Homo sapiens: one gene and its partners. The protein of the gene in region 2 interacts with the protein of the main gene of each other region in a pairwise test. Each region holds a gene or a part of one and is shown on either strand. Other genes may lie near its edges.

Evidence for each region. Proteins that work in one complex are often made in the same cells at the same time.
Region 1: the proteins of MGAT5B (region 2) and CSN3 interact in a two-hybrid assay, tested with the Homo sapiens proteins (one large-scale study listed by BioGRID).
Region 3: the proteins of MGAT5B (region 2) and BMF interact in a two-hybrid assay, tested with the Homo sapiens proteins (one large-scale study listed by BioGRID).
Region 4: the proteins of MGAT5B (region 2) and CD46 interact in a two-hybrid assay, tested with the Homo sapiens proteins (one large-scale study listed by BioGRID).

Annotation. Positions count from the first base shown.
Region 1 is NC_000004.12:70,241,233-70,245,396, reverse strand, and holds the start of CSN3 (kappa-casein precursor), read right to left. Parts: upstream 2,801-4,164; 5' UTR 2,732-2,800; intron 586-2,731; 5' UTR 578-585; coding exon 524-577; intron 1-523. UniProt on the Homo sapiens protein: Kappa-casein stabilizes micelle formation, preventing casein precipitation in milk.
Region 2 is NC_000017.11:76,944,904-76,948,403, forward strand, and holds part of MGAT5B (alpha-1,6-mannosylglycoprotein 6-beta-N-acetylglucosaminyltransferase B), read left to right. Parts: exon of another isoform or gene 1-354; intron 355-1,472; coding exon 1,473-1,547; intron 1,548-2,926; coding exon 2,927-3,183; intron 3,184-3,500. UniProt on the Homo sapiens protein: Glycosyltransferase that acts on alpha-linked mannose of N-glycans and O-mannosyl glycans.
Region 3 is NC_000015.10:40,089,635-40,091,879, forward strand, and holds part of BMF (bcl-2-modifying factor), read right to left. Parts: coding exon 2,153-2,245; 3' UTR 1-2,152. UniProt on the Homo sapiens protein: May play a role in apoptosis. Isoform 1 seems to be the main initiator.
Region 4 is NC_000001.11:207,755,054-207,758,553, reverse strand, and holds part of CD46 (membrane cofactor protein isoform 3 precursor), read right to left. Parts: intron 1,541-3,500; coding exon 1,352-1,540; intron 1,015-1,351; coding exon 912-1,014; intron 1-911. UniProt on the Homo sapiens protein: Acts as a cofactor for complement factor I, a serine protease which protects autologous cells against complement-mediated injury by cleaving C3b and C4b deposited on host tissue.

The sequences.
Region 1 (4,164 bases), on a different chromosome or scaffold from region 2:
ATATAACAAAAGTTAATGATTCAAATATTAAAGGCAGAAGTATCAAGGTCTTTGAAACTTGTGAAAAAGCTTAACCAAAGTTGACCTTTGAAGGATTTTGTTTCCATAAAGAGATTGGAGTCTGGGTGAGACAGGAACTTAATTAAAATAATTTCTGATTCCCAGACTATGATTTCTGTATTTATTCTTTCTGAATTATCCTTAATGCATTTACAATTTTAAAATGTTTTCAGTATTGTTTTTCCCCTGAATGTATTTTCTCTATAGCATGAGAATTTTAAAAGTTTCCTGTACATGATTAAGTGTGATTTCTTAATTCACAGAACTAAATGGATATCCAAAAGAACATGACTTTGATTTCATAATAGAAATAAATATTAAAAAAATTAACCTTAAAAATGTAACAACTATGTGGATATTTTGTTCTATGAAGCATAATTGTATTTAGAAGTTTGCATAGTTAAAGCCCTTAAACAAAATTTTCTTAAAGTCAGTACAATCTGGTTAGATGAAATTAACTTACCAAAAAAGGCAGGGTTAATGCCAGGGCATTGACAACTAGAAGAAAACTCTTCATTATTGCACCTAAAGATAAATTTAAAAAAAAATTAATTTAAAAGAATTTGTTACTAGAAATTTAGGAGTGACTTGAATACAATGTTTCCTTGATTAAGAAAAAAAGCCAGATTTACAGGTAGATTTAGCCGATGTGAAAAATTTATTTTAACAAAAGAATGTAAAAACTCAAACTTGGAGTAAAAATTTCTGAATTTAATTTTTGACAATATTAACGGAATTATCAAATTATCATTACTATGTCAAATGTTGAGATTATCAATGTAAATATGATACAGGCCTTGCCAATGAGTAGCATCAATTTTAGGAAGAGTGTTGAAACATATACTGAAAAACAACTGTAAGAGGGAAAAAAAGTAGAAAATGCCACAAAAGTGGTTTTCTATTAATAAAAGTTTCAGTTAAGAGAAGCAGCAGTCTTTGTGTGGAAAAAATGACATATAGATGAGGCTTGCCTATGCAGTATTTAACAGGGAGAGAAATATTTCAAGTAGAGGAGAAAGTCTTGAGAATCGCCATGAACATTTGATTGGAATCTTGTATGAGAAGGGAAATATAAGATTGGAAGGAAAGTTTAGAGCAGAAAAAGTAGACACCTTTAAGATAATGATGGGTTAAAAAGCTAGGCATGGCTTTATAAACAACAGAAAACAATTGAGTGTTTTTGGACTAGAAAGTGTATGACTATACATTTTTTGGAGGACTGAATTCTAGACCAGGCCTTATCTCTACCTCTGTAACTTTGATCAAGTGATTTCCCTTTCCTGGGCTTTACATTTTCTTACCTGTAAAACCAGGGTTTGAACTTAGAGATTTCTAAAATTCTATAATTCCATGATCAATCCAACAGAAGTATGTAGGATGGAATGGGAAGTGGAGGGTTATGAGACTGTTTTCTTTATAACATACTTCTCCAGTAATCATAACTGATATGATTAACTTGATTGTTTTAATAAGAAGTATAGAGATGACAATTACAGTGGCTTTGACTAAAATATTTAAAGAAATACATTAGCCTTATTTTTCTAAAAGAGTATATACAGTGTCATACTTGCTTATTTGATTTTTAATAAATCATCTTTTTAGACTAATAATATATGATACCCCAAACTTTTTATATTTAAGTATATATTATGTTTAGGAAGTAATTACTAACTTCATCTTGTTGCAGCTATTGTTATTGACACACTCATATAAACTTGAATCACTACAAAGTTGAACTTCGCAAAAAAGATTCACAGAATTAAAGCCTCAGATAGGGGATGGAAAGCCCACTGGACTCCATTAGCGTCTGATTCTCAGGCAATAATGATTAGGAAGGCTGTCTACTAAAGTGACTTCAAAACTGCCCATACGATGTCATCAAATTTCCATTCGATGGAACTCATTTGGAATCAATTTGAACAATCTAAGCACACTCATATTTCTTTAAGTGGGATGAAGCTCCTTATTAATGCTTCACTTGCTAGTGATCTTTTAGGATTATAGACTGAAAATGTTTTTATGATGAATCACAGACCCCTTATCAGTTCACACAGTAAAATGATATGTAAACAAAAGAAAATATTCTATAAAATGATAGTAATTTCCTTTTGGCACAAACAAAAATCACAGAGATAAGACCATACTTTGCGCATCAGCTACATTTGCATTTGCCCTCATCACTTGGTAAGAAGAAATAATTCGTGAAATGGTAGAATTATCCAGCTTTCATGAATATTTGAAAAACATGTTTTAAAAAAATAATTATTCCATAACAAATAAAATTATGACTTTTATAGAAATAAAATTTGAAAGTAATTAAGGGGTTAATTGCGATTATTATCATGAGCCCAACTTCCTGTGGAGTTAACTCTCAACATTTGTCTGTAGGAATACGTTAAACGCCTTCTTGTTCGGAATTCACAATGGCTGCTATGATTTAGTTGGTATCAGAATTTGACTGGAACCCAAAGTAAAGTTAAAAATAAATTTGAACATAACACCATCCAGAACTTAGGTTTAGGTTAGAAATTAATTTTAAAGTGATGCTAGGTCATATTCAAACTTAACAATAACTAAAAGGAAGAAAATGTGATTCTGAAATAACTATGGTGATGTCCCAACTAACTACTGTGAAAAGGATCACTTTCTCCAAGTGTTTCAGCAGCATTACCTTTCCTCGTGCCAGTCAGGTCTTGGTTGGCAGTAGGTTGAGTTGGCCTGTCAGCTGTAGAGAAGACCCAAGAAAAATAACTGAAGACCAATTAAAGGGTATTAGTACCTTGAGTCACGCTATTCTATTTCCCTCCTACTTTTTACCCAATAAGATGATGATAGCAGGGTCACCTTTGGGTCAGTCTGTGGTGGGGTGGGGGGAGTGGGGAGGGATAGCATTGGGAGATATACCTAATGCTAGATGACGAGTTAGTGGGTGCAGTGCACCAGCATGGCACATGTATACATATGTAACTAACCTGCACAATGTGCACATGTACCCTAAAACTTAAAGTATAATAAAAATAAAATAAAATAAAATAAAATAAAATAAAATAAAATAAAAAAGAAATGCAGAGAAGGATGTAGAGTCATCACTCATAAAGCTTGAAAAAAGTATTCATATCTTTTTAAATAATCTTTTTTTGTTTATAAAGAAATATAGAAGAATTTTTAAAAATATTAATTGTATTCTTATTCAACTTATCCTATCTATTTAAACTTAAAACTGCTGTTGAAATGAAAAATAGCCACAATACTTTCACATTTTAATTGTTTCTTTTAGTTTAAGAACCTGGATTTCAAGTGATACTACATCTGGCATTGACTGTGGTTGGTCTTCTTCCTTCCAGAATTACAATTATTGATTTTTAAAAATTAAATAATTGGCCATCTCACACATACCCAAGAGCACCTCCTTATAAAAGTCAAACCCATATATGAAACATTTTAATCAGTATATAGTGGGGAATCATTTGCGTTTGGGCTGCAGCACATTTTCTCCCGTATGCATTGACTACATACTTAGTGATTTATTATCCTCTTATGAATAAACTTTTTTTAAGATTTTAAATTTCAATAATATAGGTGAACCATTTTGAAAAAAAAATTATTAAATTATTGAATTGGAGATAATTGTTCTGTTTTAAGGAAAGTCATTTTGACTTAGAGCATAAATCACAAACCCACTGACATTGAGAATATTTTGGCAAAAAATAGCTAAACAAAATTTTGCTTAGATAATTCAGGAAAGCATATTTTCTTTTACTTGCTTTTCTAAAGAAATAATGTTAACTGTGACTTATTTTGGCTGTGAAGACCTGACCAGATTGAGGAACTTACAGGAATTAATGTAGGACTGCCAGAACACAAACAAGAAATAATATCAGCATTGTAGTTATGTCTATATTCCTGTCTGTTTCTTAGAAGTATTGCATGTCTTAGAAAGTTAGGAACAATATTCTAAACCCTAGAATACTTATTTGGATTACACAGAGTAAAATAGTAATATGAAATTTTCTGTTTCTCAGAATAGTTGGTTTTTGTGGTTCAAAAAGAGATGACAGAATTTAAAATGGCTAAACCAAGTTGGTAAAGTAATAACACCAGCCA
Region 2 (3,500 bases):
AACAGTTAGATTTCACCCACTGGCTAAAGACGGGAAAGCGGCCTCATTAGGAGATGGGCTGGGCCAGGTCAGGTGCCACCAGGCATGGTGGGGTGGGGAGGTTGAAGCCTAAAACAGACCTTTCTCTGAGTCCGGGATGGCTCCTTCCTGAGTCCTGACTGCTGCCCCTGCCCTTTCAGGTCAGTGATTTTCTCCACGGTGGCTCTGCACTGGGCCTGAGAAGGTTAATGGAACAGGAAGGGGTTGGTTGGTTAAGAAGTCGGGGGGAGGCAGGAGTACCCCCTTACTCCTCTGTCACTCTTCCCTCCACTCCCCTGGTTTCTTTTACCCAAGCTACTGCATGCATCTGCCCACAGGACAGGTTGCTGTGTGACTATTAGATATTTATTTATTTATTTATTTTTGAGACAAAGTCTCACTCTGTTGCCCAGGCTGGAGTGCAATGGTGCAGTCTCAGCTCACTGCAACCTCCACCTCCCAGGTTCAAGTGATTCTCCTGCCTCAGCCTCCCAAGTAGCTGGGATTACAGGCACCTGCCACCACGCCTAGCTAATTTTTTTTGTATTAGTAGAGCCGGGTTTCACCACGTTGGCCAGGCTGGTCTTGAACTCCTGACCTCAGGCGATCCGCCCACCTCGGCCTCCCAAAGTGCTGGGATTACAGGCATGAGCCACCGTGCCGGGCTAACTATTAGATATTTAGACAGACAACCTGTGGCCTCTGTTTGGGGGTTTGTGCCTGTGGGGGCAGGGTACTTTACAAATGTCATCTCATTCCCGCTGACTGGGAGATGCCCCTGTGTTCCTCTGCATGAATGTCCCATGTCTTGGGCAGGATACAGGCAGAGCTGGGGATGCCTTTTCATTCCATGACTATTTCCTGAGCACCCACTGTATGCCAGGCACTGTGCCAGGCACTGGAGATTCAGTGTGAACAAGCCATAGTCCCCACCCTCAAGGTGTCCATAAGTTTATGAGAGACATGACGAATACACAGGAGACAATAACACAGGGGCTCATTCTGTGCTGGGGGAAGTCTGGGGTGCTGGGAGTCACCAAGGAAAGTGTTCCTGTAACAGGAGTGGGGGTGGGGCTCAGGGAAAGCTCCCTGGAGCAGGTGATGCCTAAGAGGGTGGGTGGGCTGTGGGAAGAGGAGGTGTCAAAGCCCAGTAGGGGACACAGCGCTGAGCTTTATCCTCATTGCAGTTGGGACAGGGACCTGGGAGGGGGTGGGGAGGGATGAGGCTGGGCCTTGTGGGTCCTGAGCCTGAGTCCCGGAGGGCTACTGGAGGGTGTGCGGGGAACGGGGACTCTGAGCTGGGTGGAAGGGCCAGGTGGATGGGGTGGTCGGCTCCCTGGGCATGGCACAGGATGTGAGAGCCCACCAGACCTCCACCCCCAATGCCGAGCATGGCAGGGCCCCCGACGGCTGGGCCTTCTCCCGCCCCATGTGTCTGCCCATCCCTCCCACAGGTAGACCCCTACCTACCCTACGAGTACACCTGCGAGGGGATGCTGGAGCGGATCCACGCCTACATCCAGCACCAGGTCAGTGAGCCCTCTGGTCCCTGCCCCAGATCCTGTCAGACCAGAGGAGGGGGCTGAGCCAGCTTCATTGTCTGCCCAGGGCCCTGCACCCGTGAAACCATCCAACTCCCTGCTCCCTCCTCCAGCCTGTCCAGTCTCTTCCCAGAGTTCCCTCAGGGCTGGAGACAGGCAGGCCTGACTGCGGGCCTGGAAAGCAGCACACTCCGGGCACTCCTGCTGTCTGGGCCCAGCCTTAGAGCCCAACTCCACGGCACTAACAGAAACACAAAGACTTCCGTTCTTAGAAAACAGTGGTTCGAAAGTCTGCTAACTGATTGGGATTTGGTAACTGAATGGGAAGTGAAGATCCCCAGACTCTCCGCCCACCTGCTAAGGATGGCAGTGAGACTGGAATGGGAGATTAGGATCTCTGCCCTGAGAAACCAGGGGACAGCCCCACGGTTTCAAAAACTCGGCCACCTCAGCCCCCGAGGGAGCGCCTGGGCAGGCACCTGTCCAAGGAGTACACTCCTTCTCCTCCCACGGGTGCTCAGAGTGCCTGGAAGTCGTGGGTGAGGAGGAGGGCGTGCCCTATTCCTGGGGAGTCCTGGCCCTCCACTGCATCCTGGTGGATCTGAGCCACCATGAGGGCTGCAGGTGGCCCAGATGGAGCGTGGCTCTGCAGGCCCCGGGTGTCCAGGGTGATGCCTGGGGTGGGCCTTGGGCTCAGGGCCCTGGGGCAGGTGGCCGTATGGCTGTAAGAAATTTCCACAGATAGTACGTGACCTCCCTTTCCATCTTGTTGGCCCCACCAATATTAGGGGCTGAGAGAGTCTGGTTCTCCCCTGTCCCTTTACAGATGGGAATACTGAAACCCCCAGAAGGGAGAGTGTATTCAGGTGAGGGGGTGAGGGTCAGGGCCGTGGCCAGAACCCAGGACTGGACCCAGACTGGAAGCTCACAGAAAAGCATTCGCGGGGCCCTCCGGCCCCTGGAGTTGAACCCTGCAGGGAGAGCCTCACAGCCAGCCTGGGGCCCTGTCCCCATGGAGGGCAGGGCTCGTGGGCCCCAGGGTAGGAACCCCAGCCTGACCTGAGCATCGAGGCAGCTCCAGGGCACACAGGATGCAGAGGGCCCTGAATCCAAGTCCTGTTCTGCCATCCAACCCCAAGGCCCTGGGCGGATGCCGTGACCTCTGAGCCTCCATAATTCCTGTAAGCGATCTGGAGACACGAGTGTCCATGAGAAGTAAATGAAATAATGCAGGTAAAGCTACCTGGTATTCAGTAAGCGCCCAGTAGTGGTGGCTCGTACTGGCACGGCAGGGCCACACCTTCAGGTGTCTCCCAGGCACACCTGGGTCGCACTTCCCCACCCTGACACTGCTCTCCTCCTTGCAGGACTTCTGCAGAGCTCCAGACCCTGCCCTACCAGAGGCCCACGCCCCGCAGAGCCCCTTTGTCCTGGCCCCCAATGCCACCCACCTCGAGTGGGCTCGGAACACCAGCTTGGCTCCTGGGGCCTGGCCCCCCGCGCACGCCCTGCGGGCCTGGCTGGCCGTGCCTGGGAGGGCCTGCACCGACACCTGCCTGGACCACGGGCTAATCTGTGAGCCCTCCTTCTTCCCCTTCCTGAACAGCCAGGACGCCTTCCTCAAGTGAGTGTTCCCCCACCCTCCCCACCCAGCCGCTATCATCGCTGGCCCAGCCGGGTTCACTGAGAGCTCTCATGCCCAGAACCGGCCCTCAGCCCTGCCAGTGTGGGGGGATGTAATGCTTTCCAATGAGTCAGGAAGGATCCAGAAGGGATCCTCCAGGCCATTATCCAGGTCATTGCTGCCCTACTCTTGGCCAAACCCTAAACTACCAGGGAAAGCTCCTTCCATTGCCTGCTCTCTTCCACCCACTCAGCCCCCTGCCCAGCCTGTGGGCATCGTCCTGTCCCAGACCATGAAAGCTGTCCCAGGTGCTCCTC
Region 3 (2,245 bases), on a different chromosome or scaffold from region 2:
CATTTTCTCTCTCACTGAACTCAGGTGGAGAGTCTGCCAAAAGGGGTGAATAGTGGCTGCTGTAAATAATCCCGGTTTTTTGGTGTGTGCCACTGAAGCATACGGCAGCAGGCTGCCTGTCACCACCTTGATCCAGAGAGGGGAGAACAACGTATGTCCCATACACATCATAAAATGGTATGGAGACCCACAGGGAAGGCTGAATTTCACAATGGTCAGTGTGTCCCAGAGCCAGTCTTCAAGCTGGTCCCCGGCTCCTTCTCTGCAAAGCAGGAACCCGTCTTCTTAGCAGACAAATCATGGTACACACCCTGAGAATAGAATTCTGACCAAGAAGAGGTAATATCCAGAATATCTGAGCAGAACAAAACAAAGGCTTACATGCACAGTTTGAGGCCCTTCTCCTCCAGGGTGCTGTGAGCCCATATGGCACCTTTGCAAATTAGGAAAGGCACCCCTTCTTCTTGGGAGAAGTAGCCCCACACCAGGGCACGCACACAGCTTAGTGAGCAGAACACAAGCTGAATTCCAGCCTCCATTAGCTGCAGGTGCCCTTGTGCAGTGAACAACCTGCACAACTGTACATCCAGAAGATCAATGTCTCCTTCAATAGTACTGAAGACCTCCTCTCCTCAGAACTGGAAGACTTGGGCTTGTTCAGATTTGTGAGTCTACTCTAGACTCCTCCTATTTCCTTGGGTAGCCCTGAGGTCTTCTTTGTCCAGGGAAGCCGTCTTTCCTTTGGGCCTTACTTCACTGTTAGCACCAATGTTGTCTTTTCTCACATATGCAAAAGTTATAATTTAGTTTCTAGCGTCTGGTTAACAGATTCCCTGTGCCTGCTATCGGAGCTGCCACACCGGCTGCTTTAGATCCTCTCCATAAGTGCCGCAGCAGGGAGAGAAGGGAAGACGTGCACAGGCAGCTGTGATCCTGCTGGGTTCCAGAGCATGCCCTTCTGGCCTAGCTGGAAGCTGGAGGAAGATAGGAAATGTGTACCCAGCTTTGACGGTTCCCCACTCTAATCGTTATCTGTTACTCTAAAAGTCACTTAGCTGGCAAAGCCACTGTCCTGGCTTCTTCTGTATCCCACTAGGTATGAAAAAGGACTGGGGATAAGGGGGAAGAGGTATGTTGTTTCCAAGGAAACCAAGGGGTCTGGGGTCCCCTACGGCTGACTCTCATGGTAGGGTGGCCACCATATTTTCCGGCCCCACTGCAAACTTGCCCCCGATGTCCCTCAGTGCCGATGTTGGGGGTGGAATGCGGTCTGTCGGTGGGGTCTTTTGAAAGAAGAGCTGACAAAGGCACAGGCTGCCAGCAGCAACATGCTGACTGGCTATTCGGCTCATCCGTGGCTGACACCCAGCTGGTCCCAGGCCGCCAGTGGTGGCAGTGGCTCTGTACCTCAGGACCAATCCTGGGGCCTCCAAGTGGGACCAAGTCAGTTTTGAGGCCTAGCCAGAAGTTTGGTTCATTTTGCGACATGTTTGAGGGGTCCTTAGAGAAACTCAACCCTCCCTGAGGTCTGCTGGAGGTGGCAGGAGCTGGCCAGGAATCCTTGAGCCCATGGGGCAGGTACTGGCTGAGAAGTAAGAACCCAGTCAGATGTGGAGCTGGCCGGCCAGCCTAGTGAAGCTGCTATCCTCAAGTGGAAAGCCCCTGGCCGAAGCCCTGCTGGGTTAAAGCAATGTGACCATCAGGATCACGGCCCCCATCCACAGTGGAAGGCTCATAGGTTTGGTGGAACTGGGAGTCTAATCCACTCTCGATTTCTTAACTGAGTTCCTCTGGAAAAACCACAGTCCACTTCCCAGAGAACATCACTAACGGATCATCTTCGACAACTGGTAGATTCCTCAGTCGAAGAATCTACTTGTCAGAGCCCTTGGGAATTCTCACCATCACAGACACATCAGCCTCTCCTTCAACAGTGTTTGACAAAGGCCCCCATTCCAGGTCAAGGGCCTGACAGAGAAAGAAGGTCCCGCTTGAGTATGTTGTATGTACACTCAGAGAGAAATTAAAAAAAATTAAAACACAAAATAACAACAAAAAAACAATTTCACAAGACACAGTGTCAGTCCTGCCCGATGTCCTTCCTGTTCCAGACGGTGTTCCTGGTGCCCCATGTGAAGAGGGCAGCCCACCCTCACCTAGGGCCTGCCCCGTTCCTGTTCTCTTCTCCATTCAAAGCAAGGTTGTGCAGGAAGAGGAGGATCTGCCACCACACACGATTTTGGTT
Region 4 (3,500 bases), on a different chromosome or scaffold from region 2:
GTATAATGCCTTTCTAGAGGGTCTTCATTAATTCTTCAGGGAATGAGTTCTCATTCTTGTAGGCTTGGATTCATTACCATAAGAGCACGTTGTTATAAAGCGAGAACCCCCTCCCTTGTGCTTTGTCTTTTTTGCACATGCTAAATTTCCCTTTCACTTTCCAGCATGTTATGATGCAGCACAAAAGCCCTTGCCAGACACTACTGCCATCCCCTTGAACTCTCCAGCCTCCAGAAATATGAGCCAAATACATTTCTTTTCTTTATAAATGCCTAGCCTCAAGTATTCTGTTATAGCAGAATACTTACATTTACTCTATAAATGCACATTTATCTTAAATGTCTAGTATCTCCAATATATACAACTTCAAAACCCTACAGAACAAAGGCTATTACCGAGGGCTCAGTACCTGCTCTTGAGATGCTTCACACTGTAGCAGTCTCAAAAATAAGGTTTTTCAACTGAGAGATTTTGATCAACATGATGGTAAAGGCTAACCGCGTCAGTTTTGGTCTGATAACACTTTACAGAGTCATCTGGATACAAGTGTATCTTTAGTTGGCAATTCTATTTCTCATTTTTGTGAGCCCTACTTCAACTCTAAGAGTTGGCAGATTTAAATAGGGGACACTCAGTTGTGAAGGACAAATTCTCATGATTACTACATTCTTAATGCTTACAACAGACTTATTGTCAGAAACAGCAAGTAGTTTTGCTTTCCTTAAATATCAATTACTTTCTATTTACTATATATCTTGCCTATCTCCATAAAACATCCAAGAGTTGTTTGGCTAGAAGTATAACTTGTCACATAGAAAGCAAAATTAAGTTTACAGGAATGCTTAAGAAGAGAAGCAAAACAAAAATAAAATTACTAACACTTCCCTTATTTCCTCTAAGGAGCAACTTACCCCTCATTACAAATAAAGTGCATCTGATAACCAAACTCGTAAGTCCCATTTGCAGGGACTGCTTGGCCATTTAAAGGATCCCGTATATATGGACATGTTTCTCCTGAAAGAAAATAATTTTGATAGTTTTCAATCCAGTTATAAAACAGATCTGAATCAAAATCAAAATTCTGCAGTGCTCTTTTGAATGGGTGGGAATATAATTTTCATTATTTACTTATTATAAGGGCAAACTTAAGATTCATATTCACCCAGGCAATCTATTGCCAGGAAAATGATTTCTTGGAGATTTTGATTTCTCAAAGCTTGCAAAAATGCATTGTTATCTTGAACCTCATTTTACAAGAAGAAAATCATCATCACCGTAGTGGAATATGTACCCCAAAATGTATGCAAATCTCTAGAGCAAGCAGAAAAAAAAAAGAGGTTTGTTTACTTACTATAACAGGCGTCATCTGAGACAGGTAGCCATGTATGATTCCGATCACAAATAGTATGGGTGGCAAGAGGAGGTATATAGAAGTATCCTTTTTTACACTTATAATCTACTCGTTCACCAATCTCATAGTAGGGTTTTGGTTTACCAATGAGCTCCATAGCTTCAAATGTTGGTGGCTCCTCACAGGCATCTAGGGATAAGAGAATAGGAACATGAAGATGAAGTACTGATATCACTTTCATCAGCCATGGACTGTGGTCTGGCAGCAGGTAGTACAGAAAAAACAGAAAGGCCCTTGGCAAGATTTTAAATGACTGTTCCATGCTTTTACCTGAGTGCTCATAGCAGTGGAGGAAATGGGACTTGCATGTTTTAAGTAACATCCTATTAGCTTTTGGTTTGTTTGGGAATAAACATTCGACAATAAACTGAAGAGACAGCATTAATGTCTTTGATCTTAAAATATATATGGATGCATCTTTCCCCACATTTTTCTAAATTCATTTCAAAAGTAACTTCTCCTCTAAGAAGTCTTCTACAGTATAGAGTACTCTGCTCAGATTGTTCTTCCATAGTTTAAAACACTAACTTATAACAGCTTGTCACTTCAGGGTGTCTTCTCTTAAAAGGCAAGTTCCTGGGGGTCAAGAACCATGTTCTTCTTTTTCTACTATACTCACCTTGTGGGTGCACAAGAAATGCTGACACTGACAAACTCTATCTGCAAATAAGTATTCAAGAAATTGTCTGCTACCGTGCCTGGGAAAATCAAAACAACCCTAGTTTGGATTCATGTTGTGCTAAGTCAAACAAAAGGCTCAAGTTGCCCTAAAAGGACAGGTAATAACGTGAAAGTCTGAATTTATGATGGTGAGTGTTTACTCCTGATGAGTCTGTTGCTTTTCAGAATTACTCACCCTGTGATTTAATCCTCTTCCTTCTTTCTTGCCTCCTTTGCCCTACTCTGCCACACTGAATAGCTTGGCAGTCCAGTAGTGTCACATCTTGGTGCCTTTGCTCACCTTGCTTCCTCTGCTCTGAATACCCTTCCTCCCTGGCTGGTAGCTACAACTCCTGCTCAACTCATCTTCCTTAATCCACCCATCATCTCCTCCAGGAAGCATTTTCTGCCTCCCCCTGGGAAGCAGTGATCAGTCACCTTCCCCTGGACTCTCCCCTGCATGGATCTCTCAGGTAACTATCACATGCTTTTGTGTTTAATAGTTAACAAGGCCAACTCCATTCATCCATGTGGCCACAACACCCAGCACAATATGTCACTCAGAGTAGCTATTCAAAAAAAATTTGGTATTCAAAATCCACTGCTGTCAAACACAAAACAATGTGAAGAATATATTGTAATCAATTTCATATTGAAAATAATCATTCTACAGCACAATGGAGAAAGAAGATTAGGCCATTTCTTGTGCTGCCTATCTCCCAGTCTTCTGGTATCCTGGCAGGTGACCAGATATGGACTGCTCTCTTTGCATTGTAGTATGCCCAGTAAGGAAACTGAGACGCTACTGTGTAAGTGCTTACTGATCTTGGCTTCTTTCACTGGAAATAAGGAAAACACCTAAAATAGGCAGAAGAGACCACGCACAACAGGAGATTGCGGGTTTTGTCCAAAAAAGCAGCTCCTCTTCTGGAGGAATGAGACTGGCCTGAAATTTGATACATGTTTCCTTCAACTATCTGGAACCATTTGGCAACTACCTTTGAGAGGGCAGGTCTCCCATGCACAGCACTGTCTGCTTACGAAACCTTCTCCTTGTGAGAGTGAGTTGCTCCAAAAATTGAATGTTTATTTTAATTCACGTATTCTCTCTGCCTAGCATCGTGACTTCTCATTTTTACTTTCTCTAGGTTTCATACCTGTCTTGATTTACCCTTATGAACCTCAAACTTAACCTTGCTTTTCCTTCTCTTCATTCTTAGTTTTGTTATTTTCCATGTTGCACCCTATTCATTTCATAATTCTATGTTCCTCTATTTCAAATCGCTTTCATTATCTTCTTCAGCTTCCTATTTTGTTTCTTTTTTTGTTTGTTTGTGTGTGTATGTGTGTGTGTTTTGTTTTGTTTTGAGACAGGGTCTCTTGCTCTGTTATCCAAGCTGGAGTATGATCAGGGCTCACTGCAGCCTTG